3 linked regions of the Homo sapiens genome follow. The protein of the gene in region 2 interacts with the protein of the main gene of each other region in a pairwise test. Each region holds a gene or a part of one and is shown on either strand. Other genes may lie near its edges. The genes, in order: VASP, TRIM9 and EVL.

Region 1 (11,237 bases), on a different chromosome or scaffold from region 2:
CCAGAAACAGCCCCCGAGGCTGTGTTTGTCTGGAAAGGGCACCTGGTGTTTGGGTGGGGCCCACACAGTTCCCGGTGGTTAAGGCTTGGAAGCCTGAATTCACATCTTCACTCTATTCCTCAGTAGCTGTGTGACTGTGGGCAAGTCACTCAACCTCTCTGGGCCTCTAGTCCTCACCTGCAAAATTAGAATGAGTGGCTCTCTGGATAAGCTGCAGTGAGAATAAAATGAGTGACTTTGGGGGAGGGGCTTAAGGCCCCTGATCCACCTGAAATGCCTAGTAAGAGGGAGATGGCACAATTAGGTAAATTTGAGGGTCCCTACCCCAGGTCCCTACCCACAGCTGAGTCTGCCTAGGGACTTTCCCTGCCCTGACTTCCCAGCATCAGTGTCACACCCAGCCCCCAGCCCTCCTAGAGACAGAGGCTTTGCGGGGGGTGTCTAATTTCTGTCCCCGGAAACCTCTGACCACCAACTTCCCCATTTCAGGAAAAAGCCTGGTGTGGGTGGGGTGGGGAGGAGACCAGTGCTTCCCCTTCCCCTGTGTGACCTTGGGCAAGTCACTTCCTGTTTGAGTTCCTGTCTAGGCCTGAGTTTCCTCACTGGGGGAGAGGGGATTGAACCTCCCAGAGGGGCTGGTGGGAGGGTCCCGAGGGTTGTAGCTGTCCCGGGCCCCAGTGGTGCCCATGAGAGGGATGTTGACAGTTACTGAGCTCTCGGCGTGTGCTGGACGCTGTACCAAGCACTTAGCTTTTTTTCTTTTTTTTGAAACAGAGTTTCACTCTGTCGCCCAGGCTGGAGTGCAATGGCGTGATCTCAGCTCACTGCGGCCTCCACCTCCTGGGTTCAAGCGATTCTCCTGCGTCAGCCTCCTGAGTAGCTCAGACTACAGGTGCACACCACCACGCCCAGCTAATCTTTGTACGTTTTTGTAGAGACGGGATTTCACCATGTTGCCCAGGCTGGTCTCGAACACCTGAGCTCAAGCGATCCATTCACCTCAGCTTCCCAACATGCTGTAATTACAGGCGTGAGCCACCACACCCGGCTGTACCAAGCCCTTTAGGTGCCCAGATTCATGTGCCCCTCCCCCACTGCCCTGGAGGTGGGGACTGTCATTTTCCCAGTTCACAGGCAAGAAGAGGTCTTGAGTGGGAAGGTCATGTGCCTGAGTCACATGAAGTAGGTGGCTCAGTGGGGATTTGAACCCAGGTCTGGGGATATCAGCTCCTGAACTCTGCACCAGTTTACTGACACCTCCCACCCAGGCTAAGTCAGACGTTGCCTTTTCCAGGAAGTCCTGCCTGACTCTCCAGGCTGGGGCAGGCGTTCCTTCAGGGTACCCCCAGACCCTGGGCTCCTTGGTCCTAAACCTGGGTTGGTACCGTCTGGGGACAGCTGTGTCTCCCACACTGGACTGTGAGCCCCAGGAGGGTGGTGCCGGAGCTGTCTGGGTCACTGCTGTGTCTTCATCCCCAGCCCCACCCAATATAGGCCAGACACAGAGCAGGGAGTATCTGGGGAATGGCCGCTAGTGCCCTGGGGAGCCAGGCGAGGGGTGGGCAGCGGGAAGTCCCTTTGGAGGAAGAGCTCAGAGGTCTGGGATGGGTCCCCAACCTGCTGCAGGCCTCACACTTCCCCTCCCAAGCCTCAGCTTCTTCCTGAGCAGGCAGTGGTGGAGGGGGGTGCGTAGAGATAGGGAAACTGAGGTCAGGCAGGGGCTGGTCCCTAGTGCAGCTCTGGGCTCTTGGCCTCCTTCTGGCCCCTCTGTCTTCCCTCCTGCCCTCTGCTCTGCTAACCCGCATCCCCCCACTGGCATTGGCCTCGGCCTCTTACACCCCTCAGCCTGTCTCTCCATCTTTATCTTTTCCTTCTTATTAGTTTTGTTGTGTTGTGTTTTTTATTTTTCATTAAAAAAGTTTTTTTGTGGACTGGGTGTGGTGGCTCACCCCTGTAATCCCAGCACTTTGTGGGGCTGAGGCAAATGGATCACTTGAGCCCAGGAGTTCGAGACCAGTCTGGCCAACATGGTGAAACCTCGTCTCTACTAAAAATACAAAAAATTAGCTGGGCTTGGTGGTGCATGCCTGTGATTCCAGCTACTCAGGAGGCTGAGGCGGAGAATGGCTTGAACCTGGGAGGCAGAGGTTGCGGTGAGCCGAGGACAGCCCGGGTGACAGAGTAAGACTCTGTCTCAAAAAAAAAAAAAAAAAAAAAAAGATTAGTCGGGTGTGGTGGTGCATGCTTGTAGTCCCAGCTACTTGGGAGGCTGAAGTGGGAGGATCGCTTGAGCTCAGGAGGTCGAGGCCACATTCCAACCTGGGTGACAGAGAGCAAGACTCTGTCTCAAAAACAAAAATAAAAATAATAATAATAATTATTATTATTAGAGATGGGGTCTCACTATGTTGCCCAGGCTGCTCTGAAATGCTTGGGCTCAAGTGATCCTCCTGCCTCAACCTCCAAAGTGCTGGGATTACAGGTGTGAGACACCACGCCAAGACCATCTTTATCTCTTTCTGTGTCTGCCTCTTCCTCCAGGTCCCCTGTCTGCCCATCCTTTTTCCCCACCCCTCCCCCATCTGTTCATCTGTCTGTCTGCCTTCAGTCTGTCTCTCCTCTTTGTCAACCCGACTCTCCCTTTCCCACCTCTCTCTGCGTCTGTCTCTTGCATCTCGTTTGTGTGTTTGCCTGTCTCTCCTGATCTGATTTTCTCTCCTGATCTGTCTCCCCCGTCTCCTTCTGTCCACGTGGCTCCTGCCTCCCTCTGTGTCACTCTCTTCCTTCCACACACTGTCTTTGTCCCTTGGAATCTCCCAGGAGAGACCCAGATAAGAAGGTGACCGGCCCCTCTCCCTTTTCCTCCCGCCTGCAGCGAGACGGTCATCTGTTCCAGCCGGGCCACTGTGATGCTTTATGATGATGGCAACAAGCGATGGCTCCCTGCTGGCACGGGTCCCCAGGCCTTCAGCCGCGTCCAGATCTACCACAACCCCACGGCCAATTCCTTTCGCGTCGTGGGCCGGAAGATGCAGCCCGACCAGCAGGTGCAGCTTCCCGCCGGCCCCCTCTGTGGGCTGAACCCCTACCCGCCCCACCCCTGCGCCCGCCGCCCCTCACCCCCCTTTCCCCTCCCACCAGGTGGTCATCAACTGTGCCATCGTCCGGGGTGTCAAGTATAACCAGGCCACCCCCAACTTCCATCAGTGGCGCGACGCTCGCCAGGTCTGGGGCCTCAACTTCGGCAGCAAGGAGGATGCGGCCCAGTTTGCCGCCGGCATGGCCAGTGCCCTAGAGGCGTTGGAAGGTCAGAAATGGCGGCGGGCAAAGGGGACCAGTGAATGCGGCTGTGTGGCCTGGGGCTGCCGCTTTACCCTGCTGGGACTTGGTTTACTCGTCGGTAAAATAGAGCGAATTCATTGTTATCATGGAAAATTATCACTAGCATTTTGTGCATTCCAGTGTGACCGTGTGCACCTATGTGTAAAATGCACCATTGGCCCGGCGCCGTGGCTCATGCCTGTAATCTCAGCACTTTGGGAGGCCGAGGCACACGGATTACCTGAGGTCAGGAGTTTCACCGTGCCCAACATGGTGAAATTGCGTCTCTATTAAAATTCAAAAATTAGCTGGGCGTGGTGGTGCGCGCCTGTAATCCCAGCTATTCGGGATGCTGAGGGACGAGAAGTGTTTGAACCCAGGAGATAGAGGTTGCAGTGAGCCGAGATCAGGCCACTGCACTTCAGCCTGGCGACAGAGCAAGATTCCGTCTCAGAAAGAAAACAAACACAAAAAAAATGCACGATTACTCAGGGATCAGTACTCCATGAACTTTACACAGGCACACTCCCGGGAAACCACCTCCCAGATCAAGACATAGGTAGGTCCTGCCCCAGAAACAGGATCTCGCTCTGTTGCCCAGGCTGGTGTGCACTGGCACAATCATGGCTCTCTGCAGCCTTCACCTCCTGGGCTCAAGTGATCCTCTTGCCTCAGCCTCCTAAGTAGCTGGGAATACAGGTGTGCACCACCATACTTGGCTCTTTTTTTGTTTTGTTTTTTGAGACAGAGTCTTGCTCTGTCACCCAGGCTGGAGTGCAGTGGTGCAACCTCAGCTCACTGCAACCTCCACCTCCCGGGTTCGCGTGATTCTCGTGCCTCAGCCTCCTGAGTAGCTGGGATTACAGGCATGTGCCACCATGCCCAAGCTATTTTTTTGTATTTTGTTTTTATTTTTATTTTTTTGAGACAGAGTCTCACTCTGTTGCCCAGGCTGGAGTGCAGTGGCACGATATTGCCTCACTGCAACCTCCGCCTCCCGGGTTCAAGCGATTCTCCTGCCCTAGCCTCCCGAGTAGCTGGGACTATAGGCGTGAGCCACCACACCCGGGTAATTTTTTGTATCTTTAGTAGAGACAAGGTTTCACCGTGTTAGCCAGGATGGTCTCTATCTCCTGACCTTGTGATCCGCCCGCCTAGGCCTCCCAGAGTGCTGGGATTACAGGCATGAGACACCATGCCCGGCCCTTGTATTTTAGTAGAGAAGGGGTTTCACCATATTGGCCAGGCTGGTTTCAAACTCCTGGCCTCAAGTGATCCACCTGCCTCTGCCTCCCAAAGTGCTGGGATTATAAGTGTGAGCCACCATGTCTGGCCACCTGGATCATTTCAAATTTTTTTTTTTTTTTTACTTTTTGTGGAGATGGTCTACAGGCTGGTCTTGAACTCCTGGGCTCAAGTGATCCTCCCACTTCAGCCTCCTAAAGTGCTGGGATTACAGGCATGAGCCACTACACCCAGCCCAGTTGCTTTTTTTTTTTTTTTTTGGAGACGGAGTCTCGCTCTGTCCCCAGGTTGGAGTGCAGTGGCGCGATCTCCGCTCGCTGCAAGCTCTGCCTCCCGGGTAAATGCCATTCTCCTGCCTCAGCCTCCCGAGTAGCTGGGACTACAGGCACCCGCCACCACATCCAGCTAATTTTTTGTATTTTTAGTAGAGACGGGATTTCACCGTGTTAGCCAGGATGGTCTCGATCTCCTGACCTCGTGATCCGCCCGCCTCGGCCTCCGAAAGTGCTGGGATTACAGGCGTGAGCCACTGCGCCCGGCCTTTTTTTTTTTTTTTTTTTTTTTTTTTTAATATGGAGTCTCACTCTGTCTCTCAGGCTGGAGTGCAGTGGTGTGATCTCAGTTCACTGCAACCTCCGCCTCCTGAGTTTAAGCAATTCTGCCTCAGCCTCCTGAGTAGATGGAACTATAGGTGTGCACCAACATGCCTGTCTAATTTTTGTAGTTTTAGTAGAGACGGGGTTTCGCAGTGTTGGCCAGGCTGGTCTCGAACTCCTGACCTCAGGTGATCCACTCGCCTCGGCCTCCCAGAGTGCTGAGATTACAGGCGCGAGTCACGCGCCCAGCCCAGTTGCTATTTCTTAAACCTTAACGTGCACATGAATCACCTGGGGATCTGGTTAAAGTGCAGGCTCTGGTGCAGGTGGGCTGGGCGGACTGAGACTCCACATTCTCACAAGTGCCCTGGTGATACCCAGGCTGCTGGTCTGCGGACGTGACTGAGTAGTGAGGTTTTAGGTGACTGCCGTGCATCTGGCCTGGAATCACTGCTGTAGAACTGAAAGTCACCAAATGCAGGGGTGTTTGCTTCGTGGGACAACTTCTGTGCTAGTGCGGAAGGGGCTTGCTCCTCTGGGGCACACAGAAAAATACAGTGGGCTTCAGTTGAGTCATCTGTAAATTGGGGCTAATTCATTGTTAATTCGTAGCCAATTCAATTCAGGTGCTAGGGCCAGAGGCCTGGAGGTAGGTGAGGAAGAAGCTCTTTACCTTTCCAGGTTCTTAGGTAAGGTCCAAGTGGCTGTAACAGTGGTTAAGAGCTAGCCAGGGGCCAGGTGCGGTGGCTCACGCCTGTAATCTCAGCACTTTGGGAGGCTGAGGCAAGTGGATCACTTGAGGTCAGGAGTTCGAGACCAGCCTAGCCAACATGGTGAAATCCCATCTCTATTAAAAATACAAAAATTAGCCAGGCATGGTGGCAGGCGCCTGTAATCCCAGCTACTCAGGAGGCTGAGGCAGGAGAATCTCTTGAACCCGGGAGGTGGAGGCTGTGGTGAGCCGTGATTGCACTGCTGCACTCCAGCCTGGGTGACAGAGTGAGACTCTGTCTCGAAACAAACCAACAGTGGTTAAGAGCCTGGCTGCTGGAATCAGCCTGAATTCAAGTCTTGTTCCTGCACATTCCACCCTGGAGAAATCTGGGGCAAGTGACTGTTCCCCGGGCCTTAGCTTCTCCTGTCACTGGGACATCACAACAGCACCTACCTTAGGGCAACTCAGGCCAGGGAAGTTGGTGCTGCCTCACCTCCCAATGTGCGTCCTCCTGGGCCTGGAGCCTCAGGGCCTCTGGAAGGAGGAAGTGAGCGCCTCTGGGCAGGATTCCTGGGAGGCCTGGGAGAGCAAGGGAAGCGCCAAGAGCTGAGCAGAGTTCTGGGACTGATCCATGGCCCTTTCTCTCTCACCTTTCAGGAGGTGGGCCCCCTCCACCCCCAGCACTTCCCACCTGGTCGGTCCCGAACGGCCCCTCCCCGGAGGAGGTGGAGCAGCAGAAAAGGTGGGGCTGGGCCCTGGGTGGGGAACCTTAGCCGCTGCCAGAGTTCCATATGTTCTGGAACCCTTGACTCCTAGAGTTCAGAACCCAGCCAACTTGCAGTTTTCAGAATGTTCAAGAAACTTCTGACACTCAGAGTTGCAGAACCTCCTGGTCCCTGCAGATTCCTGGAAATCAGAATATGGTGGTTGAAAGAATCTTGTGGCTGGGCGTGGTGGCTCACGCCTGTAATCCCAGCACTCTGGGAGGCCGAGGCGGGCAGATCGCCTGAGGTCAGGAGTTTGAGACCAGCCTGGCCAACATGGCGAAATCCCGTCTCTACTGAAGATAACAAAAATTAGCCGGTCATGGTGGCGCCCGTGCCTGTAATCCCAGCTCGGCAGGCCGAGGCAGGAGAATCGCTTGAACCCGGGAGGCAGAGGTTGCAGTGAGCCAAGATCGAGCCACTGCACTCCAGCCTGGGTGACAGAGTCTCAAAAAAAAAAAAAGAAAAGAAAGAATCTTGGGCATTTTGTAATTCGGTGTTCCTGACAGTTTAGTGACTGGGATCTCGCATCCTGATCTCTCCCTGTCGCTGCCCTGCCCTCCATTCCCCCTACTCTCACCCAGCCCCCTTCTTGGTTCCCTAGGGGAGGAAGGCTTGGGTGAGTATTAGGAGCCAGCCACCCTGGAGACCTCTGAGAGAGAGGACGGAGGTCGCTGGCCCCTTCGCTGGCCATCCTTAGGGCCCTGATTGACGGCAGCTCTCTCGCCTCCCCCCACAGGCAGCAGCCCGGCCCGTCGGAGCACATAGAGCGCCGGGTCTCCAATGCAGGTGATGCTCAGATAGCTTCGGGAGTTGGGAGGGGGCCTCCCTGGAGGAAGTGGCCAGCCAGCTGGACAGTGAAGAATGAGGCTTCTCTCTCTCAGCTGCCCCCTTTTCTGTGTTTGTTTCAGGAGGCCCACCTGCTCCCCCCGCTGGGGGTCCACCCCCACCACCAGGACCTCCCCCTCCTCCAGGTCCCCCCCCACCCCCAGGTTTGCCCCCTTCGGGGGTCCCAGCTGCAGCGCACGGAGCAGGGGGAGGACCACCCCCTGCACCCCCTCTCCCGGCAGCACAGGGCCCTGGTGGTGGGGGAGCTGGGGCCCCAGGCCTGGCCGCAGCTATTGCTGGAGCCAAACTCAGGAAAGTCAGCAAGGTGAGGGGCCGGGAGAGGTGGGCAGGGGGCAACAGGGCTTTTATGGGGGATGAGGCCAGGGCTGCCGGCGGTGTCATTGGGCTGGAAGGCCAAAAGGCCTGCCCCTAAAGCTCCTGCCCCTTTTAAATTTCTCCAGCAGGAGGAGGCCTCAGGGGGGCCCACAGCCCCCAAAGCTGAGAGTGGTCGAAGCGGAGGTGGGGGACTCATGGAAGAGATGAACGCCATGCTGGCCCGGAGGTGAGCCTGAGCCTGGACCCCCAAGTCACCTGGAGTTCCAGTTCAGTAGGGCCCAGTCAGAGGAGGGCTCCAATTCCTGTTTAGTTTGTTTCTTTTGGTGAATGTTCCCCCTTTGATAACCAGGTTTGGGATATAATGGTGGGGTTTGTCATGAAATGCCTGAGGCTTGCAACCACCTAGGTAGCCTGTAGATGTTCTAAAACCCAGAATTCTAGAACCGTAGGAGATCCTGCCTCAGAATTCTGGGAACTCAGGTTCCTGCAATCTCAGTGTTCCAACACAGCACCGCTCCACCCTCGGAATCTTACTGTTCCCTAATATAAGAATCATAGAACCTCCTCCACCCTGATTCTAGAACCACAATCTCTTGAATTTTTTTTTTTTTTTTTTTTTTTTTTTTTTGAGATGGAGTCTTGCTCTGTCACCCAGGCTGGAGTGCAGTGGTATGATCTCGGTCCACTGCAACCTCCGCCTCCTGGGTTCAGGCAGTTCTTCTGCCTCAGCCTCCTAAGTAGCCGGGATTACAGGCATGAGTCACCACACCCGGCTAATTTTTGTATTTTTAGTAGACACAGGATTTCACCATGTTGGCCAGGCTGGTCTTGAACTCTTGACCTCAAGAGATCCACCTGCTTCAGCCTCTCAAAGTGTTGGCATTACAGGCCACTGCGCCCAGCACAATCTCTTGAATTTCTAAAACTAGAGTTTCCTTAGGTTTTCGGAGTTCCAGAATTCTATGCGCTAGGATCTACATTTCTAGAACTCCCCTCAGAAGGGGATGGGTTGGGTGACGGAAGCACGTGTTTTTGCTTTTCTCTCCTGCAGAAGGAAAGCCACGCAAGTTGGGGAGAAAACCCCCAAGGATGAATCTGCCAATGTAAGTCAGGGACTCTTCTTGCCCTACATCTCTTAGGCCGTACCATGAGGGTAGGGATAGTGGGATGTGTGGGGTTTGAACCTGAAAGAGGAAATGGGCAGAGGTGTGGCAGGGGCTGGCTCATGGCAGTTTTATTTCCTACCAGCAGGAGGAGCCAGAGGCCAGAGTCCCGGCCCAGAGTGGTGAGTAGAGTGCCCAGTCCAGCCACAGGAACTACAAATCCCAGAATACTCTGTTCTCACATGTTAAGCACCCTTATAGGAGAGTCAGGGCGAATGGTGCTGGGGATTGTAGTCTCCTGAGATGGGGCTTTGATCAGGGGCTGATGAGGTTGGGGGAGTAAGATTGATTGGGGGGCAGTCTTTTGTCCCTGATCTTTCTGATTTCTTGCCTATCCCCAGAATCTGTGCGGAGACCCTGGGAGAAGAACAGCACAACCTTGCCAAGGTAGGCCATCGGTCCTGGGGCCCTTGGGGAGGTAAAGGCGGGCAGATCGCTTGAGCCCAGGAGGTCAAGACCAGCCTGGGCAACATGGCGACACCCCATCTCTACAAAAATTAGCCAGGCGTGGTAGCACTTACCTGTGGTCCCAGCTACTCAGGAGGCTGAGGTGGGAGGATTACTTGAGCCCAGGAAGTTGAGGCCTCAGCGAGCCATCATCATGCCTGCACTCCAGCCTGAGAAATAGAATGTGACTGTCTCAAAACAAAACACAACAAACCAAAACCAAAAAAAAAAAAAACTGGGGCCCCAAAAATACTTGGACTTGCCCAATTTATAAGGCAGAGCTCAATGTGACCCCTGGAATAGGAGGCGGGGAAGCAGGTCCTCTCTCTAATCTCATTGCTGTCCCAAACCACACCAACTCCCCCAGGATGAAGTCGTCTTCTTCGGTGACCACTTCCGAGACCCAACCCTGCACGCCCAGCTCCAGTGATTACTCGGACCTACAGAGGGTGAAACAGGTAACTTGGGGGGGAAGTTGGGGACCACAGCAAGAGAGATCTAGGTCTGGCCCCTGCCACTGGCATGCCGTATGATCCTAGATAACATCTCAGAAACCTCAGGTTTCCAATCTGACAAATGGAGAAACTGGATTGGGTCAAGGATGACCGAGACTCCACACCCCCTTTTCTGGCACCTGTGACAGACATTATTAATCTATCACCGCGCTCATTCCAGATGAGTGCCTTGAATTCTTTCCGCACATTGACCCAGCTGTCCATCACCAATTGGAGTTGGCAGGAGGCTGGAATGCGCTTGCCAACCTTGGTACTGGATGTTCTCCAGTACTTTTCCGGCTCCAAGGATCCAGAATTCTCCCCTAGAATCCTCCAGTCACTCTGCGACCTTGACAGCGATGTCATGGTGTCGATGTAGGGGTAGGTCTCAAACCTACTACCCCTGGCTTTTCCATCAACAAGAAAGAGGGGACTCTGGCAGGGCACGGTGGCTCATGTGTGTAATTTCAGCACATTGCGAGGCTGAGGTGGGAGCATTGCTTGAGGCCAGGAGTTTGAGACCAGCCTGGGGCAACATCGGGAGACCCCCATCTCTAAAAATAACTTTTAAAAGTTACCTGAGAAGGCCAGGTGCGGTGGCTCATGCCTGTAATCCCAGCACTTTGGGAGGCCGAGGTGGGTGGATCACCTGAGGTCAGGGGTTCAAGACCAGCCTGGCCAACATGGTGAAACCCATCGCTACTAAAAATACAAAAATTAGGCTGGGAATGGTGGCTCACAGCCATAATCCCAGCAGTTTGGAAGGCTGATGGGGACGGATCACGTGAAGTCAAAAGTTCGAGACCAGCCTGGCCAACATGGCGAAACCCTGTCTCTACTAAAAATACAAAAATTAGCTGGGCCTTGTGGGGGGCACCTGTAATCCAGTTATTTGGGCGGCTGAGGCAGGAGAATCGCTTGAACCCGGGAGCCAGAGATTGCAGTCAGCCGAGATTGGGCCACTGCACTGCAGTCTGGGTGACAGGGAGACTCTGTTTCAAAAAAAAAAAGAAAAAGAAAAAGTTACCTGATTGTGGCGGCAGGTGACTGTGGTCCCAGCTACTTGGGAGGCTAAGGCAGGAGGATTACCTGAGCCTGGGAAGTTGAGGCTGCAATGAGCTGTGATCATGCCATTGCACCCTAGCCTGGGCAACAGAGCAAGGTTCCTTCTCAAAAAATAAAAGAAGGGGGATTCATTCCTGCAAGTCCCGGTACCCCCTCCTGATTAGTTTTACCCCATTAATTTTAGGAGCTTCTGGAAGAGGTGAAGAAGGAATTGCAGAAAGTGAAAGAGGAAATCATTGAAGGTGAGGTGGTTTGCTTTGGTT
Region 2 (9,577 bases):
CGGTAGATCGCTATGACAACCACCCTGATCCTGCCTTTGGTGTGGCTCGCATGGACGTGATGAAGGATGTGATGTTAGGAAAAGACGACAAAGCTTGGGCAATGTATGTGGACAATAACCGGAGCTGGTTCATGCACAACAACTCGCACACCAACAGGTACCCTGCAGCCCCCAAACCAAGCCTTCTTCACGTTGGCTTCTGATCAGGAGTGAGAGCCCCAGTTCAAAAACCTATTACATAGACCACATTCAGGAAATCAAACAGGTGGTCTACATTAAGTAGCACAGGCAATCTATGAGCCTCAGCTGAGTCCATGCTGGTGGTTTACTTTCTATATAATGATAGAGACTTGAGTACTTTCCTACTCCCTTCATTGCTGTATTTCACCCATGGCTGGAAACTAAGAATCCCAATGGATATCCATTATAAGAAAACAATCCAGGATGCTGAAACACCCAGACCTACAACTTAACAGAAAAGCACTTTTGGGCAAGTTACTTCGTTTTTTGAACCTCAGTTTCCAAATCCATCAAATTAGTACAATAAAATTTTTCCTTGTGGGAATCTTCTGAAGATTAAATGAAATATGTGAAAATGCCTTACATTGGAAGCACCTGAAAATAGTAGCCATTCTTCTTATTACGATTCATTAAACTAAAGCTTATGGATGCCAATTTGAATGGCTTTCTACTTATAGAGAACTCTCTTATTACTGTATTAATCCAGAGCAGCCAGTTTGCTAAGGAAAGGAAATACAGTAATCTCCTTGAGGTTTTCTTCTACCACCAAAATATAGATCATTATAATTGAACACATACTATAATGGATTTCCTTTCTCATTTGATTGTGTTCCTCAAATGTATTTTTCACAAATTTCCTAGGCAGAGAAATTTCTACTGTGGACCCTGGTCCACCTTATGCTCCAAGATTTCCCCAGGATACATTCTCATTAGTGTCTCTGAAAAAAAAAAAAAATACAGTAGTGTTCAACCAGATCAAAGGGAAAGCAAGTCAGACATTGGTAGGATAATTGGACCCCACTGTTTTATCTTTTTCTGTATGCTCATCACTGACCCTTCTCCAGCCTGTAGACTCCTAAAGCCTCCTTTTCCCTTGGATAGCTTCTATAGCATTCAAGTGTGTATTATTCGCTGTCACTTGAAGTGAACACACACACCATTTCACCATGAAAGCAAATCCTACTGGATGTAGATAAGTGGTTATCTTCAGTGATCGGCATTTTGTGGAACTCTCTGTCAATAGATTCTCAGTGCTATCACCCAAATGCCACACTTACTTTTTCCCTTTTAGCGTCTTTGTTTTGAAGTGCAGGAGTGAATAATGACATAACCATCACACTATGCAGAGAAACACATTCTTAATGCTGAACACATCTGCTTGCATGCAACCTGCATGTCACTTGTGCTTTCATTGTTAAACCTGTGAAGTAGCAAGAGGCAATTTGTAAACCTGTCTTTTAATGACTATGTACAGTCTGTATCCTGCATGCAAGAGGAAATGAATGACACAAATTCCTGTGCTCTGCTGAGATGAGGACGAAGTTCAATATTGCTAGATCTCAAAAAAATGGGAAAGACAAATCTGATCGTCCATTTTTAATGGCATTTTGTGAAACCATCAATTGAAGCATAAGACACAATTCTTTGTAAAATGGCATTTGTATGCAGGTTCTTTAAAATCACTACATCTCAGAGTATAATTATTTCACTGTACAGAGAAGAAGCCTCTTCTTCAGTGCTGTCATTTCACAGACAGCCTCCAAGTTCTTAATTCAAATGCAACAAGCCAAAAAACTGCTATCCTTCTGGAATGAGTTTTTCTGTTTAATGGATAACATAAGGCCCCAAATCCAATTTCTCATGCATGTGGTTTAGGTGCAACAAAAGTGCTTCTTATTTTGACTTTCAAATTAAGTCACTTTGTATTTAATGATATTTAATTCACACCATTTATACAAAGTGTGCAATATTCCTAGAGTCAGAGCTCTGATAGCCCAAAGGCGACTTTTTCCTAGTCTTTAATGTTTGGTTTTCTACTGCTGTGACTCAGTGGTAGAGACCCTAATGAATGAGTTCACTCTCAGCAACAGCAGAGCAACTCACAAGGGCAGATATCTCCCCCTAGGAAGTGAAAATTGATGGTGGCAGGGAGGGAGCAAAAAATCATACTCTTGTTATGTATAAAACACAGATATACACACAGTACCAACAGGTATACAGTATATCTGCGGTATTAAAATTTATGTGCAAGGGATGATTAGGGAAACGGTTTTGGGGTAGTGATGATTATAAACAGGTTGCAAGACACTGGTTTCACCACACAAAAGGGGGGAGCTTCTAGAGTGACCACAAGGAAATGAACCCCAATTTTTCTCTTTTCCTACAGAACTGAGGGAGGGATCACAAAAGGGGCCACAATTGGGGTCCTCCTCGACTTAAATAGAAAAAACTTGACATTTTTTATCAACGATGAACAACAAGGTCCCATAGCATTTGATAACGTGGAGGGCCTCTTCTTCCCTGCGGTCAGCCTGAACAGGAACGTGCAGGTAAGCACCCTGCCCCTGAGGTTAAACAGCTGTTGCTGGCTACCGGTTCAAAGGCTGCCCAGGGCCGTTCAATCCAACCGAAGAGAGGGAAGCTGACAGCGTAAGGCCCAGACCAAGATATGAAGGAGAGGAGGAGAGAAAGGGATCAGCACTGGCAACTTATTTTATTCCACGCCAAGCATAAGCACCTTCTTTATACTTGGACGCAGACTAGTTAATAGCACATAGGAAACTAGAATTCTCTTCATGGTTGGCTAATGATCATCTCTGTAGCTCTAGTTTCACCTCTAAATAGAAACGAAAGCCTTTAACCAACTGGCATGAAAACAAATAGAATGACTTAACAAAGCTCAGGAGTGCCTGAGAAGAGGTGAGGGTGTAAGACTGAAGCATTAGTATCATTATCAGAAAATCTGAGCATCTTCTCTGCACTCTTGTTTGGCTCTGTTAGGTCCTAAGGGGTAGAAAACATAGTCCCTACCTACAACTTAGTCAATTATTATTTATTATAGAATAAAACAACAGCTTCTCATTTATTCATTCAGCAAATATCTATAGAATGCCTTTAATGTGCCAGGCACAGTTATAAGTGTCTGGGATACATCAGTGAAAAAAAAAAACAAAAAAACAGATAAAAATCTTGCCTTCATAGAACTTACATCTTAGTGATAGGAGACAGACAATAAATAATAAGCATAATTACAATGTTAATCAGATGGTGTGTCAGAAGGTGTTTAGTGCAGTGGAGAAAAGACCAAGGGCCCATGAGTGGTGTGGTTGGGAAGGGCAGCCACAGTATTGCGTAGGTAGGGCTTATCGCAGTTACCGGTGAGCTGAGCCTTAAAGGAGTGAGGGAGTGAGTTGCGTGGAGCCTTCCAGACAGAGGGAACAGCCTGTGCACAGTTTCTAAGGCATGAGGGGCCTTGCATGGGCAAGGAATGGTGGAGAGACTCTTGGGCTGGGGCCTGGAAGGGGGACCAGAGCCATGCATGGGGGAAGAGCTGTGCCCTGCCAGCCGCTGTCAGGACTTAGGGTTTCACTTCCCTCCTGAGCTGGGCATCTCATTAACAACTATGAGCCTCATTCCACAAATGGTTGTCTTGAGATAAGGCTTGAGAATTACAGGTGACTTTTGCCCTATCCAGAACCAGCCTTGGAAACTATTTATCAAAATTCATTGTTGTGTTTCAGTATGTGCAGTAACATTGATTGCAAACTAGCAGCCCCTGCCCTTCTCCCTGCAAGGAGATGGGGTTTTCTAGAAGGCTGGAATCTAATCTTTCAGAGTTCAGCCTCTACACTTTAAGAAAGAAAACCATAAATTACCCTAGAAGCGAGTCTCAGAAAAACCCCATTCAAGGTTTTTCACATTAGCCATTTCCCTTTCAAAGAATATTATACTAGATGCTCTTCAGGGGTTTTCAGGACCTTCTGATTATCTATTGATAAAGACTCTTGGGCTGGAGAAGACAGGGATAAGAACTGCATGAAATGGTTCTAGTTTTATCCATAGCTATCCATTGAGGTTTGGGGATACACGGAAATTGGTAAAATAGTATAATGCCATGTTTTTTCACAACTGGCAATCATCTATGCGACCCCAGAAAGAAATGTTTGCCCTAATTACAATAACTAGTGGACAAGTAATAAGGGAAGTGCTGTCTCTGCGAATCTGTCCTCTATCCATGGATTTGGCAGTGGTCACTGTGGTGTGGCCAGTAGGCTCCTCTATCTGAAAACCAAGGCCTGTGTCTTCAGTTATAAGGAACACAATCTCCCCGGAATCCTTTAAAAGAGGCAGGTGACTAAGAACCATATAATCAAATGTCACCAGGATTTGAGAGCCCACCATGGTGAGCAGCCTGTTACCATAGGCAGGATTCTTCTTGAATTCCGTTTAATGCCTGCTAGCCTAGATGTTTAAAGCGAAGCAAACAGAACACTTTTTGAGTTAGGGACACACCCACGGTACACTGTGTAAAGGGACAGGGGGATGCACGATGCCTCTCAGGACTCACAGTCTCATTCCCCAGGTCACGCTGCACACCGGGCTCCCAGTCCCCGACTTCTACTCCAGCAGAGCATCAATAGCCTAAGGATGTGCCGTGGAGGCGCCAGCTGCCTGTTCTTACCTCCGCCTGCGAGAGCCACAGCAAGGAGCTCAGCCAGCCGTGGTGGGGTGCAGAGTTGGCAGGAGTGGGAGAAGGAGGAGAGAAAAGCTGGTCCTCTGCAGTCTTTACACCCACAGCTCTGCCCTTTTCCCTTTCAACCTCTCCTCCGCTGTCATGCCTGCTTCCGCTTCCATGTCCAACAATTCTAACCAACAAAGGACCTAGACAGCCCACCAAGTCACTTGGTTCCCACTCCCAGATTTTGCTTTTATTTAACTTAATTTTTTATGTAGGTGAGTTATATTTTCTTTCTTTTCTGATCAGGTTATTGGTGACTTACTGGACTGGCACCGCCAGGAGAAAATTCTCCTGCTAACTTTTTTTCTTAAGCTTTCTGTCAAACAATGAGGTTGTAGGGGGAGGTAGGGAAGAATGAGCTGAATTTGTAGCATACAGCTTACCTGCTAGAATGTTCTTACCCTCTTACCTCTCCTGTAGCGTTAGCTCTGCAGAGCTAAGCTTTGGGAGAATGAATCTATCACTGAGAAGTTTTACTACTCATTGAAGCACAAAAATATCCGCTACACAGGTTCACATCAGGGTAGGATCGTTAGGATGGCTCTATAATTAGGATAGGCCAGAACCCTGGCCACTGTATAAAATTGGAAAGTCTCTAAGACACAGGCAAACCAGGGGACTTAATGATTTGGTTCGTTTATTTAATAAAAGCTTTTAATTGAGAACCTACTATTGACCAGGCACTGTTCAAGACACTAGAACATTATGTTCTAGACACTGTGGGGACACAGTGGTGAACAGACAGGCATGGTCTCTGCCCTTCGGAGCTTATATTCCAGTAGGAGAAAAAGCAAAAATAAAATAATTATAAATGGTCATATGTACTAGAAAGGAAATGGGCAAGGGTCAAAGAGACTCATGGGCAAGATCTTTCAGGCTTCCTAGAATGATGCTAAAAATCCACACATTCTGGCCATAGCACCAGAAATGTACCAACTCAATGCCTTTTCAGCTGCACTATTTAATTATGGTACCTGCTGCCACTCATCACAGAGCCCTTCTTGGTAGAAATGATGTCAGCATTCTTATTTGCTGATGCTGCTATGATACCACGCCTTAAAAATTGACAGTTGAAAAAAAAAAGAGTGACCAGAGGGCAAAGGACCCATTCTCAGTAATGGGAGATCTTGAGTTGCAGTCCACAGCATTCACATTCTCAGGATAAACATGCTTGTCTCCATATATACTATCTGTGCCTGTTATGAATGAAAAATCCATCCACTCTGCTGCCATTCACAGCCTAATTTTCTGGAGTAGTCCAAACAATGTTTGGAAAAACATGGGACTGTATGTCATTACTATGACTGATAGCAGAATAATAATGCATCTTACTTCTATATAGAGATAGACTTACATAGGTTACCCTTGAAATTCATTAGTTTGTCATAAAGTTTTAGGAAAGGTAGGACCCGGAAAGAAGTTCTAATTAGTTGTCTAAATATTTTTCAGTGAGCCAAGAAATTCACCATGAAAAAACAAGAATAACAAATAGAAGGGAAGAGATAGGATGGGAAAGCTAACAAATTAAAGTTTTGGCAAAAAGGAATATATGTAAATAGCTAATTATTTACTTTTGTGCTTACTTTATTTAGATTATTTCTATCAGTTACAATCTTTTTCTAGTTAAGTGTACCTAATTTATGGAATGGGTGCTATCCTGTTTATGTGTGTCTTGGTTTTTCTTGGCTACAGAAAAACTGTTGCAGGGCAACACTAGTTTGATATTTGATTTACTCTCCAATGAGACTCAATGGCTGGGCCGTGGTAGACTCATAGTTCCTCTTGTTCTTTATTAAATTCATCCTGCTAATTAGATTTCTAGTGACTTGTAACATGTAGTTTACACTGAATTGCAATTACAGATGCATACAACTACTATACTAGAAAAAATTGTCATTTCTGATGTGCCAATAAATGATTTTTATGAGAGAATAAAATGTCTCTAGAATTTCTTAGTTTTTATCTATTGCGGATGACAATTCACCTTTGTCAGAGCGATGTTTCTTCAGGAAGATCTCATTGGAAAGGCCCCCAGAGCTCTGGAGAGCATGTGTTCTTTCCCCTGTTTCCTTGGGCATGTGGCACTGCCTTTTGGTTTTACTCATATGAAATTTAACCTGATGTGAAATGTCCAGTGGAGATGTCTGGGGTCTGCTTCCAAGTATTGGGGATTTACTTCTGTTTTTTTTTTTTTTTTTTAGACGGAATCTCACTCTGTCACCAGGCTGGAGTGCAGTGGCGCAATGTTGGCCCAGTGCAATCTCCCCTCCTGGGTTCAAGCAATTCTCCTGCCTCAGCCTCCCGGGTAGCTGGGACTACAGGCACACACCACCACGCCCAGCTAATTTTTTTGTATTTTTATTAGAGACGGGGTTTCACCATGTTGGCCAGGATGGTCTTGATCTCTTGACCTTGTGATCCACCCGTCTCGGCCTCCCAAAGTGCTGGGATTACAGGCGTGAGCCTGGCCTACTTTATTTTTAAAAAGCCACACATTTGGCTTGCAATTTTATAGTACTGCAAAACAGAGTGTCACTGACTTTTTCAAACCTAGCTCCTTTAACATTTCTTTGAATGGCAAAACAATAATTACAACATTATTCATCTACCTAACATTGTTGTTAGCCACTAAAAAAACACTTTGTTTCTTGATTAAAGGAAAAACATTACCTACAAATATATGGTCTGAGTTATAACCTCACAGAGTGGAATAGTACACAGTTGGTAGCTGCTGCTGCTCTCCGTTGATTCCAGTTTCTACACATTCCTCTTTCTGTCACGGGATCCTTGGGGTGTCACTTCTCCAGCCAAAAACCTCTGTGGCTGGCAGCGCCTTCTGCCTGAGTACTGCCTGCACCTACTGGGCTCATTCTGCCCACTCGGCCTGGCAGGCTGCACTCGGCTCACACTACCAGCCTGGATCCCACACCTGCTAAGGGTGAGTCAGGTGTGGAGTGGCAAGGGGTGTGTGGGCAAGTGAGCTCTGGGTCTGGCCACTGCACACAGCCAGGCAGGCCAGCTGCTGTGGCAGGGCAGGCAGCTCCAGGCACCAGCAAAGTTGTTGGCTCTGTAAGAGGCTATGGCTGGACCAGATGTACTGCACACAGCTTCCACTACAGGAACATGCATCTGGCTGAAGGGTATGTGGTGGCACCCGGAAGCTTGGAGATACCAGGAACCACAGAGCCCCAAAGAGGGTGTCACAGCCCTGGCTCCAGGAGCCCCTAGGTATGGGCTCCCAGAAGGGCCACAGCTCTTCTCTCCTTCTCATCACCTGCAACATGGTGAGCTGAGGGTGGTGGCTGAGGGTTTCAGCCCTGTTTGTGTTACAGCTCTTTCAGTCCCACCATTCAGCAGGTCCCAAGTTCTTGTCCTGTATCCAGGAAGAGTGAGGTACCTGCACAACTGGAGGGTGAGCAAGGCAGAGAGGAGCTTCATTGAGTGACAGAACAGCTCTCAGGAGACCTGAAGTGGGTAGCTCCCTCCACAGACAGGTCACCTTGATGTCTGTGCAGACCCCAGCAGAGAGGAGACCCAGAGTGGGTAACTCCTTCCTGCAGCTGGTAGTGTCGACGTCTGGCTGAGCACAGGGTTTTCATGGGCTCAGAAGGAAGGAAGTGTGTACTGAATGATCCATAGGCAGGCATGGATGGGCCTGGAAACAGCATCATCAGTTCTCACTCTGGGCCACGGACTCACCCCAGAACTGGCAGCCTGGCCCCCAGGCTTCAGGCCATCCCTGGCTTGAAGGTAGGGGTTTCACCAGGGACCTGCCCTTTTCTGTCCAGGAGCATGACTTCCTCCTGCCACCATCAACATGCCTTCCACAGTACCGAGGATGTTTGTGCTGAGGGGTGCCTGCAGGCCTGCACTGGGCTATCTTCGGCTCCACCTCGGCCTCCCTCCCATGCTCATCAGCACCCAAAGTCCAGAGGGGGCTGAGGTGGCAGAAGGCTGGTGTGACAGTGCTGTCCCAAGCACACACACACCTGGGGGGTTTCCGACAGCGCCCAGGCTTGACCACAACTTTGCTCCACCCTGGAGGGGGCACCAGGAGCAGGGAGAGGCCAAGGAGCGGGAGCAGGTACTTCTGAGCCTACGGGGGGAGGGGAGCTTCCCAGGCCCCCAAGAGCGCAGGGATGCCCAAGTCCAGAGTTATGGCTGGGCTGCCGCAGCTGCGCCTGGGATTTTGGGGCTTTGGCCCTGCCAACTCAGTAGGGAGCAGGGCTCTCGCCTGTTCCCGGCCCCTACTGGCTCCGTTGAGCAGACAGCCCCAGGCTCACCTTGCCCCCTGCAGCCAGAGTCTTTGCAGCAGTGGCTCCAGATGGGCCGCTGGTGCCATCATTTCCACTACCATGTTACTTTTTTCTTCCTCCTCTGTTGGTCCCATCTCTGTTCTGGTTTTCTGCTCTTCTGTTTACTACCTAATGGAACGCATTGCTTATGTTTTACTCTTCTCGTGGTACTGAAGTTAATGGAACTTGTAATTCCTCATATTTCCTTATAGGAGTGAATAAGTGATTTGCAAGAAATCATTTTATTTTCTAGAAATGAGGTCCCTTTATTCCTCCCTCTGCTGTAGGCATTAATCTTTTGCCTATCTATTCAACTCACTGAGAAGAAAGGAGGGCTTGCTATTGAATCCAGATTTCTGATTATGAATCAATGGAACTATAATAAACAAACAAATTCTCTGGTCACACTACCTTATGATTTATGTGAACACACTAAAGACACCTGTATGTATTTCTCAAAATATGTGCTAGCTATTTCCACTAAGGCTGATGTTTAGGGAAGCGTGGATCTGACATAATACAT
Region 3 (11,237 bases), about 49 Mb from region 2:
GTAATAATGTTCACATATTCATTCCTTCTGTTTCTTGAGAACAAGGAGGGAAGAACCACTAAGACCTTGGTCCTCTATGAAGTAGGAGGGAACAGGGCTGTCCCCACATCATCAGTGCAGTTGTAACTTGAATATTGCTGTGACCCCATCCTGCGGCAGAAACAAAGCCACTTCCCCATCTTGTCAGGGAGGTATGAGAGCAGCCTGCCCAGAGTCCCTCTCCCAGTCACTGCGACTCTCTGCAGTTCCCTAGTGACACCTGAGCTGGCAGAGAAGGAACAGTCAGCTCTTTCTTAGGTGGCGGCAGAAGCTTAACTGTGGCACAGCATGGGAAGCCCTGCACAGGCCCCAGCTCCAGCCTCCTCTGAACAGGAGGTCTGCACAGCAGACTTCGCCTATGCCGGGGTCCCTCCTTCAGGGTCCAGGGCAGGGTGTGGCCAGAAAGTTCCACACCAGTCTAGAACAAGGGGAGCAAGGGCAGGGTCTGGCTCCTTCCCACCCGCAGCTCCAGACACCCTTTGTAGACAGCAGGGGTCACCCCAGGTCTAGAAGCATAGGCCTCAGCTCAGACACACCCAGGTTTTAACTCTGACCAAGACATCCGCCAGCTGTCAGTGTCAGTCCTTTGCTCAGAAAGTGGAATCAAGTGGACTTGTTAGGTTTGGCAATTCCCAGTTCCCCGCTGATTTTAATTAGAACATCCTGGTGGGATGTAAAGAGGCCAGATTCAATGTTAAAGGGTTGAGGGGGTGGTGGCCAGCAAGAAGGTCGAAGCAGTGAGAAGATAGTTTGAGAGAGAAGGCGAGCAGGGTCAGTAACTGAAAGGGTTAATTTTTAACCATGTGAAAGTTTGGGTCTCATTTATTGGTTCAGAATGAAGAGCCGTGAGAGAGAGAGGGTGATTGAGAGAGGAGATGGAGTGAGTGATGCACAGGTGTGAGTGAGGCCAACATTTAAAAAGATTCTTAAGGATGTCTCTTCTGCAGCCAGAAGGTGGGCAGAGATAGAGAGCACTCCAGTTGGGTTTGCTGGGGCCTTTCTTCCTCTAACCACACTGTTTCTGTGCTTCTCTGCCCACAGGCCCCTCCAGCCAGCGTCAGGTGCAGAATGGCCCCTCTCCTGATGAGATGGACATCCAGAGAAGGTAACCCAGCACCCGCAGGGGCCAGGCTGGTCATCTCCCAATCAGGCTGGGTGGCCAGGGGTGCCTTCAGCGGGTGAGGATGCACCAGCAGCCAAGGCCAGGACTCCTAGAGGCATACACTGCGGGAGGGTGCAAGGTGCAAGCCAGACCAGGAAGAAAGAGGGGGCCGATGCGCAGCCGCTGGTCCCGGACACCAAGACCAGGAATGACTGTGGGAGTCTGGCATTCTACAGAGAGTGCTGCTGACCTCCAGCGGGACGGCTCTCAGGGTGACCCAGCAGGGCCCAAGTGCTGCTCCCTTGTTGCCTCACTTGCCCTTCCCCAACGTAGCAGGAGGCAGTCCAGGCATGAGGGATTCAGCCTGTTGGGGCAGTCACGCCCATGGGATGGGGCTAGGGACCATAGGAATGAACCCCCTCACCCCATGGAGCTTCTAAAGTGTTACCACAGTGGGGAAGAGGAAGGGCCAAGGCTGTTGTCCCGAAATTACAGAGTCGTGGTGAGTCCCCATGGAGCAGCCTCCCAAGGTCACATTGCTCTGAAATGGCAGAGTCAGGACTTGAACCCAGGTCTGCCCTCTCAGCGATGGGTCCTCTGCCTCTTCTGTGTCGAGGGAGGTAGGGCCTGGCCCGGGCCTTCCTCACTCAGCTTTGTCAGATAGGGAGTCAAGCTGCAGCTCTCTGTGGCTACACTTATGTCCAGCCCTGGACTAGGAGTCAGGAAAGCCGGCTTCTGCCCCCACCTACCCCTCTCACCAAATGGCATACGGACTTCTCCCAAGACCTCCTCTCCTCTGGCCTTTTCCTAAGACTGAGAAATGAATGCCTTGCAACCTTGGGCAAGTTCCTGCTCCAAGCCTCCGTTTCCCGGTTTGAAGATGGTGTTGGCTTTGCTCCCCACCTGTCTCACCCACTCACCCTCAGGGCTTTTCTTACTGTTGTCCCCATGAGCCAGCTGAAGCCGAGAATGGAAGTGACTTGCCCAGAGTAACCAGAGAGTCAGGCAGAACCTAGACTGGCAGTCAAGTCTCACTCCAGCTGCAGCTCCCTGCCGGGACCCAAGGCTGGTCCCACCCACAAAAGGGCGTGAAGGAGTGAGCCACCAGACGCCAGGTGTAAGCGTACAGGCGTGGATGGCTAAATGGGTACTTCATTTCTCTCGAAACTGCTTCATCACCCGCAGTGCTGAATTCTGTACCCCAGGGCCCAATCCAAGCTGTGTGGGGTCACTGGCCGTCCGGGAATGGGCATACCGCCTGGCGGTCGGGGTGTGAACAGCAGGGGACACACACACAAGCACATACACTTGTCCCAAGGCAGGACCACACACATAGCTGCCCCCAGACGAGACCACGTACGGACGGACACACACACCTGCTGCAAGACGAGACCACACACATGCGCACACACACACACCTGCCCCAAGATGAGACCACATGTGGATAGACACACACACACACACCTGCTCCACGGTGGGACCACACACAGACACAGACACACACACCTGCCCCAAGGCGGGACCACACACACACACACACACACACACACACCTGCCCCAAGGCAGGAATACACACACACACACACACACACACACCTGCCCCAAGACGGGATCACACACACAGACACACACACACCTGCCCCAAGGCAGGAATACACACACACACACACACACACACACACACACACACACACGGCAGGGAGACTCTCGCTTGTCCCACGCAACTTTACTGGAGGTGGGCAGGGGCAAGACTTACTCAGTGACGCAGAGACTCCAAGCATCCAAACAGTACCATAGGTTCAGACCTGACTTGAGTATTTTTCACACATCCTCATTTTACCATGGTGTTCTAGGTGTGTGGCTCCTGCTGGGGAGGTTTCAGCAGTTTGAGCAGAGACACTAATGTAGATGCTGCTGGGAGCTTTTCAGACCTTAATGCTAAAAGGGGCTTTTCCGTAATTTTTTTTTTTTTTTGAGATGGAGTCTTGCTCTGTCACCCGGGCTGGAGTGTAGTGACGCAATCTTGGCTAACTGCAACCTCCACTTCCTGGGTTCAAGAGATTCTTCTGCCTCAGCCCCTTGAGTAGCTGGGATTACAGGCGCGCGCCACCACACCCAGCTCATTTTTGTATTTTTAGTAGAGATGGGGTTTCACCATGTTGGTCAGGCTGGTCTCAAACTCCTGGCCTCGTCATCCGCCCGCCTCACCCTCCCAAAGTGCTGTGATTACAGGCGTGAGCCACCACGCCCAGCCATTCCATAATGTTTTAGTTAAGGCATACACCCTACAAGAACCCCATGAAATAGATGTTTCTGGCACTCCCACCAAGCCCAGAGCTGCCTTCAGAACAATCCTTAGCCCTGTGTTTCCACAGCACATGTTCAGTTTGCACCACACGAGCTGAGCTCTTGATGCTGTCTGTGGCCTGGATGATTTCTTAAAGTGCCTCCCACTCCAGAACTCGATCCCTGGATTCTGGAGATGTATCTGGGCCTCAGTGTCCTCACTCAGCTTGCCTTTAAGAGCACCCTGAGGCCACCCTGCCATAAGGCACTGGGATGTGAGTTCCCACTGCTGTGCACGTAGCAGTGTGCCACGGTGCACCAAATGGCCCTCTAGACGAAGGCGGGCCTATGACCGCTCAGTGGTAAAGAAAATGAGGAGTGTGGCCTTTGTGTCCATTTCTGCTGGCAACCAAAACACACCTGAGAACTGTCCCAGGAAGCTTGGCCAGGTCCACTAAGAACAGGCGTTCCTGAGGCTGGGTCTGTTGAGGCCACAGGCTCCCAAAAGCCAGGTGCGCCCATCTAGCCCAGGGAAGAGCTTGGTCACTCTGGGGAGTGGAATCACACTGGCCTTCCATAAGGAGCTCTGTGTTCAGTGTGCCTGAGACTCAGGAGACAGCCGGTGCTCCCACTTGCGGGAGCTGGACCCAGTCACATCCCCCTCCTCTGTTAAGTGGAGGCAGCCGTGGCACACAGTGGCGCTTGTGGAGCGCTGGCGAAACCTGACTCTGAAGCCGGGGCCGGCGGGTACAGCACAGGCACAGAGTGTGGTGGTCTCCAGAGTGGAGGAGTCAGACTGCCCTGCTGTGATTACTTTCCAGACAAGTGATGGAGCAGCACCAGCAGCAGCGTCAGGAATCTCTAGAAAGAAGAACCTCGGCCACAGGTGAGAGCCCTCCTCCCCTAGGGCCGACTCCCATGCTGCTGCCAGGTGGCAGCCCCTCCACGTAGATGAGGCCCAGGGACACACGGGGCGCTCTGTGAGCAGCTATGGGGAGCCTAGGTCTCAAAGTGCAACCACCACTTCAGATGGTGAGGGTAGCAAGAGAGCAGAGCAGAGGCTTGGGGAGTCTGCTCAGCTGGGTCTGGCCACTACCTGCCAACCTTCTCCGGAGTGGACATTCAGCAAGCACCTCCTGTGTCTCAGGCACCGTGCTAAGGGCTGGGGACACAACTATGACTGCAGATGCAGTTCCTGCCCTCAGGAAGCCCGCTGTCCACTCAAGGAGACAGTGAACCCACCCTTGTCATGTCACGTAGTGAACACTGTGGCAAGTGACGTGCAGGTGCTGAAGGCCTACCTTGGGTCAGGAAGACTTCCCACAGGAGGCGCTGCCACGCGTCTGTCTTGGACGTTCGGTGGAGCTTAGCACGTTAAAGGAGAAGGACGAGGGTTTTCCAGAAATTGTCATGTTCACTGATAGGCAAAGGACTGGATAATTTACCAAGTGCTTTCATGTCCTTTGTCTTGTTTAATTTTCTCAAACACCCTATGAAGTGAGCAGGTGACTATTATCCTGTTGACTGATGAGAAACCCGAGCCCCCACTGGTTACAGGAACGCTCTGCTCGTGAGATGCTGGCTGACCCCATCACCCCCACCTAGCTGCTGCTGGCCTCCTGCTCCCCGGCCAGTCTGCATTTCTGATGCAGGTCTGACACTGTCATCATGTCGTCCCTTCCCCATCACTCTTGGAACAGCCTGTGCCTGCCCTCTCTCCCTCTAGTGCCTCGCAAGCACTTCCCATCCTTTTCCTCCTTCCTCACACTTGCCTCCCCCCTTCACCTAACTGAACCCCTGCTCTCCGGTCGTGTCCCAGCTCCACAGTCACTTCCGTGAGGACGTCATGGAGGACGTCCGTCTTCCATGAACTTCTGGCCAGGCTGGAGCCCCTCTTTGTATGCCAACATGGCGCCGTGTGCCTGCCCTTGGTAACACTTGTCAGCTTGCCACAGTCCTCCATCTGCGTTTACCTCTGCGATTCGTTGACTGTTCCTCATAGGCTGTGAGCACCCTGAGCAGAGAGCTTGTGGCTGGTTTTCCTCAGCACCATACCCAGCACCTAGCACAGTGCCTGGCACAAAACAGGCTTAGGCAGCACTGGCGGAAGGGGCTGGATGGATGATGCTGGAGCCCAGCACTCGGCATTGCGCCCTGACCCATGCCCCCAGTCGGCCCTGGGACCCACAGGACCTGCCACGGCCCCCAACGACCCAAGTGTCAGTCACAGTTGGATCTTGGTGACCAACTTCTGCCTAGGGGGTGCTAGGTGCTTAGAAGGAGCAGAGAAGAGAAGAGGCACAGACTGTAACCAGACAGCTTCCTCTCCCCCTGGAAAAACATGATTGGAGCAAGAGGAAATTGCCTGGGCTCAAGGAATGTTAAGCAAATAGAGGACACCTGTGGGTCCAGCCAGGCCCCGGAGTACTGAGGACACCAGAATAGGGAATAATTGTGCCAGAGCCAAGTTCATCCCGCGGAGGCTTCCTGGATGAAGCAGGCCTGGAGCTGTTTCTCATCCCTTTGGGGAGCAGCCTGCCCCTGTCCTTCCTCCGGGGAACCTGAGCTGAGAGCAGCAGGCTTGGCCCCCAGCTGGGTGCTGGAGCTGGCTGAGCCTCACTGTTGTGTTTCAGGGCCCATCCTCCCACCAGGACATCCTTCATCTGCAGCCAGCGCCCCCGTCTCATGTAGTGGGCCTCCACCGCCCCCCCCACCCCCAGTCCCACCTCCACCCACTGGGGCTACCCCACCTCCCCCACCCCCACTGCCAGCCGGAGGAGCCCAGGGGTCCAGCCACGACGAGAGCTCCATGTCAGGACTGGCCGCTGCCATAGCTGGGGCCAAGCTGAGAAGAGTCCAACGGGTAAGAGCTCCTGTGTGCGGGGTGGGAATGGGACCGAGGGGACCCTTGTGCCATCTGCAGAGCGCTTGTGTTCCTTCCCGCATCTGCGAGACACAGCAAACTGCTTCCCTGCCCAAAGCTAGCTGGCCCTTGGCCACTTGTTCTCAAACGAGAAATCACATGGGACAGCACTTTGAAATTATGAAGTTAGCCTTTGAGCCTCACGTTGACCTTCACACGTGGGGCAAGAACTATGTCCCCCTTTAGAGATGAGGAAATTGAAGCACAAAGAGCACGAGTAATTTGCTCAAGTCACACCGTTTACAAATTGCAGATTTTGGACTCAAGCCTGGGTCTCCTGAATCTATGTCCATTGCCCTTTCCACTGTAGGAAGCTGTATGCTGGCAACTAGGTCCACCCGGCTGTTTCTTCCCTAACCCTTGCTCATATGTTCTAGAACTGTGCTTGTAAGAATAGCTCTAATACAGACCTTTGGCTTACATTGTGTTTCCTTCCCACAGGATAGTCTCTTCTCCCCTCCCTCCCTCCCTCCATGTGTCATGGCTGGTCTTGGCAAAGACACTAACCATGAGTCTGCAGGCCTGGGGAGTGTCTGCGACTTGTGTGACCTGGGCTGGTCCTTGTCCCTCTCTCGATTCTGGTTTTCTCCCCTGTGGGGTTGGAGAATAATGGACCAGATGGCCCCTGAGGCCCCTTGCAGTGCTGCTGCCATAGGATTCACACGCACACAGTCCCCTGCATCCCCTCACATCGTTGCTGCTCCTGTTCTGCCATCAGCAGCAGAATCTAAAACGCGGCCTCCTTTTTCCTCAGCCAGAAGACGCATCTGGAGGCTCCAGTCCCAGTGGGACCTCAAAGTCCGATGCCAACCGGGCAAGCAGCGGGGGTGGCGGAGGAGGCCTCATGGAGGAAATGAACAAACTGCTGGCCAAGAGGTGGGTCTCTACACCTCCCGAGACTTGGTGTGCCTAGCAGGAAGCTCCTGCCCCCGCCCCCAGCGCTGCACAGAGAATCCTCTCTTGACCCCAGAATCTTTGTTCCCTGGGTTTAGCCAAGCAGGGGAAACTGTTACTTAAGTTTTCCCTTCCCAAGGGGTTAGTCTGAAGCGCAAGCCCACAGGAGTCCTCTAAACTCCAGATCCTTCATTTTAGCTCAGCAAATATTTCCTGAAGCATCTACCATGTACCAGCCCTGTCCTGAGCAGAGATAAATGTGGAGACAATTTCAGAGATAAATGCGGGAAAAAGAACAGTCCTTGCTCTTAAGATCCTAACAGAAATAAGATGTGGCCGCAGTGGTCGAGTTTGCAGAGGACACTCTGGTGAATGTGTGGTGAAGGCACCCCATTCTCCAGGGTTCTTTATGGAGGACTCAGGAGAAGGAGTTATGAAGGGTAGGAGCCCAGAGGGCATTGCCCTGAGCGACGGAGAGAGAGTAGTTCCATCTACATCCCGGCCGGGCTCTTGGGCCTGAGACCTGGCCATGTGTGTCTGCTCGCTGCAGCGGGTGTGGCTGCAGCCTGCCATTGTGGCTCTCCGCTGTTCCCCAAATGAAACCCGAGCAGATGGGGAGATCGTCCAGGTCTTTCTCAAAAGGGATGCAAAGCTTGGATTTTATTTTTAAATATGACTTGGCATCAGGAATGTGCTCACCTTGGACTACCAATATCGTGGCTCACTTAGGCACCAGAGGGCACGGGAGTAGGCCTCACCTGCCAGAACAGAGGAAGCTGCAGCGGGGGCCCTGCTCCCTTGGTAACCCCACCTCCACCCCCTGCCACTTTGTCGCCTTCTCCTGGCCCTCCCAGCTGCCTTCCAATTGGCTGACCCAAGTGAGAACTCTGTGTGCCCAGGGTCTTCACACTGCAGTCCTAGTTCCTCTCATTACCTTCCCGTGGCTCCATGAGGATGATGCGAGATGACAGAGGCCCACAGCTGCAGGCAGCTGGTGTGGCGCTTCATGGCAGGGCCACAGCCTGGGTTTCCTGCCAAGGGGCTCTTTGCTTGCATCACAGATGGCAGGGAGGGGAGGCTCCCCGTGTGTCAGGGAGCAGCAAGGTGGATCCGCAGCACGGGCGTCTCCGGAGCCTCTACTGGGCCTGGGCGTTTGTACATCGCCAAGACAGGAGGCAGGCTTCTGAGCAGTTTCCTGTGAGAGTAAGTCCAGGTGTGTGGGGCTTACAGTGGCCACACAAAGGCGAATGGCTCCGTGGGTGAGAGAGCCGGGAGGGCTCGCAGAACGATGAGGACGTCCCGTGCTGTAAGAGGGACAGTGGGCAGAGTTAAGGTAAGGCTGGGAAGGCTGACGCCCCCTGTGCCTGGAGAGCTAGGTGTGGAGGAAATGGACCAAAAGTCAGGCTGGAAGAGGGAGCCTCCTGGTGCAGGGCATCGGGTTCCACCTCAGAGCACTCAGAGGCGAGGATGGGCCACAGAGAAATAGAAATAGTTTTGGAAAAGAAAATATGAATGCTTTCCCTAAGTCCTAGACCAAGCTGAGGGGAAGCACCTTTCTGTCTGAGAACAGGAAAAGGCCAGTATTGCCAGGAGCCAGTGAGATGCCAGATGCCGGTGGGAGAGTCAAGGCCCTCCCAAGAACAAACATGCTTTGCATAGCTCAGCAGGGATCAATCAGGTGCTCTCTGAAATCCACCTCAGTGATGGCTACTGGGTGGAGCCGACGATGAAAGTGCCCTTGCCAGGTTTCTTTTCATGTAGGTTGTCTCCCGCCTCTGAGGGCATGCAGTTGAGTCTCCCAACAGTGGAGGGCAGGAGGGAAATGAACGTGGACAGAAAGCTCCTGTTCAGCAGCACTTTCACAGACACTCATCCCGCCTACACTCCCCGTGAGCAGGTGGCTTGGTCAGCGTTCTGTTTCTAGGAGATGGGACACTGGCTGCTGGGGGGTAGCTGGTGAGGTGTAAGTGATCGTGGCTAGGCCAGTTAGGAGACTCTGACAGTCCAGGAAGAGATGATAGGGGCATGCAGGAAGGTGTTGAAGGTGAAGACAAAAAAGACAGGCAGGTACCCAGATTTAGAGAACTGACCAGGCTGACAGTTATAAGAAGCTGGTGTCAGGGATGATTCCCTGGTTTCTGGGCTGAGGGACGAGGTGGGCAGACCTGTCCTGAGATGGGAGCTAAAGAAGGGGGCCCCTGCTGTAGCTGAGGAGGCTGCCAGGTAGGCCCATCACAGACAGGTGACAGCCTGGCCACGGCCCATTATCACACCTCAGACCAGCTCCATGCTTGATGGGCAGCTCATCTCAAGTTGAAAAGCCACAGAAGCGTATCTCTGGGAAACACTGAGGGTCTGCCTGCCTCTGTAGACCTGGGAGGTCAGCAGATACCACTGAGGCCAAAAAATATGGGTGAGGTTTTAGAGTACATGAAACGGGGATTCATACTGGGGAGGTGCACGAACCGACTCAAGGGCGTCACGTGGACCTATTCCAGGGCTCCTCTTCTGAGCATTTCCAGGCTCTGAGTGGCATTCTAGATTGGGGAGGGCGTGGCTGGGTTAACTGAGTTCCAAGACACAAGGGCCTTAGAGTGACACAAGAAAGTGTCCAGTGTCCCGACCTGTGGGACAGACTGCAGCCCAGAGAGATGCCTCTCTGTCCCGTGTGGCCAGGCCTTCAGTGTCCTGGGGACAGAGCGTGCCCGCCTCCCCTCCACGCCTCAGATGCTACAGCTGCTGCCAGTAGAGCTAAACAGACATAGAGGCATCTCGCCCTCTCTGCCTAGACCAGTTTTGTGTCCCAGGCCATGACCACACGGAGGGCCTGGACATTTGCCTGGGCCTGGCTCCTCACCAGACGGGGCCTAGACAAGCCGCCTCCTTCACGCCATCGTTTTCCCACACAGGTTTATCTGAGGACCGGGGTGAGTCTGGCAGGGTGGAGGCAGAAGAGTTCTGGGACAGTGAGAGAACGTGAGGAGCTGATCTGTATCTTCCCCTTCTCTGTGCCTAGGAGAAAAGCAGCCTCCCAGTCAGACAAGCCAGCCGAGAAGAAGGAAGATGAAAGCCAAATGGTGAGCAAGCAGCCCGCCCCACCCTCAGGCTCCCCACTGAGATGAGCGCATCGCCAGGGAGGCTCTCTGGTCTCAGGCGAGGCCTTTGGGACATGCGTGGGATGGGCGCTTCATCAGGTGATTCACAGGAGGGGCGGAGGGTCTCTGCGGTGCTTGTCCCTGCGCCACCCTGGCCCCAGCAGCAGGCCTGCCCTCACTGAGCACCCCCTACCAGACACTGCTCCACCCTTGGAGCTGCAGCCTGAGGCGCTGGCCGCTGCACCGCAGGGCTACCTCGCCTTCCCAGGAGCCCCGGGGAGCACAGACCAGCCAGGGTCTCGGCGGGACTGGGACTCCAGGAGTACACTGCAGAGGGGCACGTCTGCCAGAAGCCCAGAGAGGTTTTTATTTTCAAATTATTTCTGTTTCTAAAGACTCCTCTTCCAGCAGGAGCTTCAGGTGAGCTGTGGCAAAGGAGCCCTGGACCCCTGGCTCTTGTCCTTACCAGGCAGCCCAGAGCCAGCCTGGCTGCCAGAGCTCCCAACATCTGCTTCCAGTTAGGGCGGCTAATTCTCTTTTCCTCCATGTTAAGCTTTTCCTATAAAAAGACTCCTACTGACAGGGCTAAGTTTAGCCTTAACTACAAATGCCTTGAAGGTTCCACCTCAGTGCAGAATCAGAGAGGAAATAAAACTGCCAGGGACCAGAGCAGGCTTCCTGCCCTGTCCTCCCATCAGTCAGGGTCATGCTGGTGTTACCCTGAGGCTATAGCCCTCCCAGCTGATCCACGCCTCTCAGCCCCGTCCTGGGCACATATGGGTCCCTTTGCCCCACCAGCCAACTCCCATTCAGCCTGCACTTCCCTGCATCACCCTTACACCTTAAAAAACAGCCTCCCGGCCGGCTCAACACTTCACACTTGTAGTCCCAGCACTTT

The links.
Region 1: the proteins of TRIM9 (region 2) and VASP interact in binary tests that used the Homo sapiens proteins (3 or more experiments, as listed by UniProt).
Region 3: the proteins of TRIM9 (region 2) and EVL interact in binary tests that used the Homo sapiens proteins (3 or more experiments, as listed by UniProt).

Annotation. Positions count from the first base shown.
Region 1 is NC_000019.10:45,514,788-45,526,024, forward strand, and holds part of VASP (vasodilator-stimulated phosphoprotein), read left to right. Parts: intron 1-2,875; coding exon 2,876-3,047; intron 3,048-3,141; coding exon 3,142-3,307; intron 3,308-6,162; exon of another isoform or gene 6,163-6,456; intron 6,457-6,534; coding exon 6,535-6,619; intron 6,620-7,380; coding exon 7,381-7,430; intron 7,431-7,552; coding exon 7,553-7,794; intron 7,795-7,930; coding exon 7,931-8,031; intron 8,032-8,856; coding exon 8,857-8,908; intron 8,909-9,053; coding exon 9,054-9,090; intron 9,091-9,309; coding exon 9,310-9,355; intron 9,356-9,489; exon of another isoform or gene 9,490-9,526; intron 9,527-9,782; coding exon 9,783-9,873; intron 9,874-11,158; coding exon 11,159-11,216; intron 11,217-11,237. UniProt on the Homo sapiens protein: Ena/VASP proteins are actin-associated proteins involved in a range of processes dependent on cytoskeleton remodeling and cell polarity such as axon guidance, lamellipodial and filopodial dynamics, platelet activation and cell migration.
Region 2 is NC_000014.9:50,972,380-50,981,956, reverse strand, and holds the end of TRIM9 (E3 ubiquitin-protein ligase TRIM9), read left to right. Parts: coding exon 1-157; intron 158-2,407; coding exon 2,408-2,570; coding exon of another isoform or gene 2,571-2,666; exon of another isoform or gene 2,667-4,594; intron 4,595-4,603; coding exon 4,604-4,666; 3' UTR 4,667-6,691; downstream 6,692-9,577. UniProt on the Homo sapiens protein: E3 ubiquitin-protein ligase which ubiquitinates itself in cooperation with an E2 enzyme UBE2D2/UBC4 and serves as a targeting signal for proteasomal degradation.
Region 3 is NC_000014.9:100,122,459-100,133,695, forward strand, and holds part of EVL (ena/VASP-like protein), read left to right. Parts: intron 1-1,080; coding exon 1,081-1,144; intron 1,145-4,248; coding exon 4,249-4,313; intron 4,314-6,060; coding exon 6,061-6,290; intron 6,291-7,104; coding exon 7,105-7,226; intron 7,227-7,873; exon of another isoform or gene 7,874-8,002; intron 8,003-8,178; exon of another isoform or gene 8,179-10,260; coding exon 10,261-10,321; intron 10,322-10,588; coding exon of another isoform or gene 10,589-10,701; intron 10,702-11,237. UniProt on the Homo sapiens protein: Ena/VASP proteins are actin-associated proteins involved in a range of processes dependent on cytoskeleton remodeling and cell polarity such as axon guidance and lamellipodial and filopodial dynamics in migrating cells.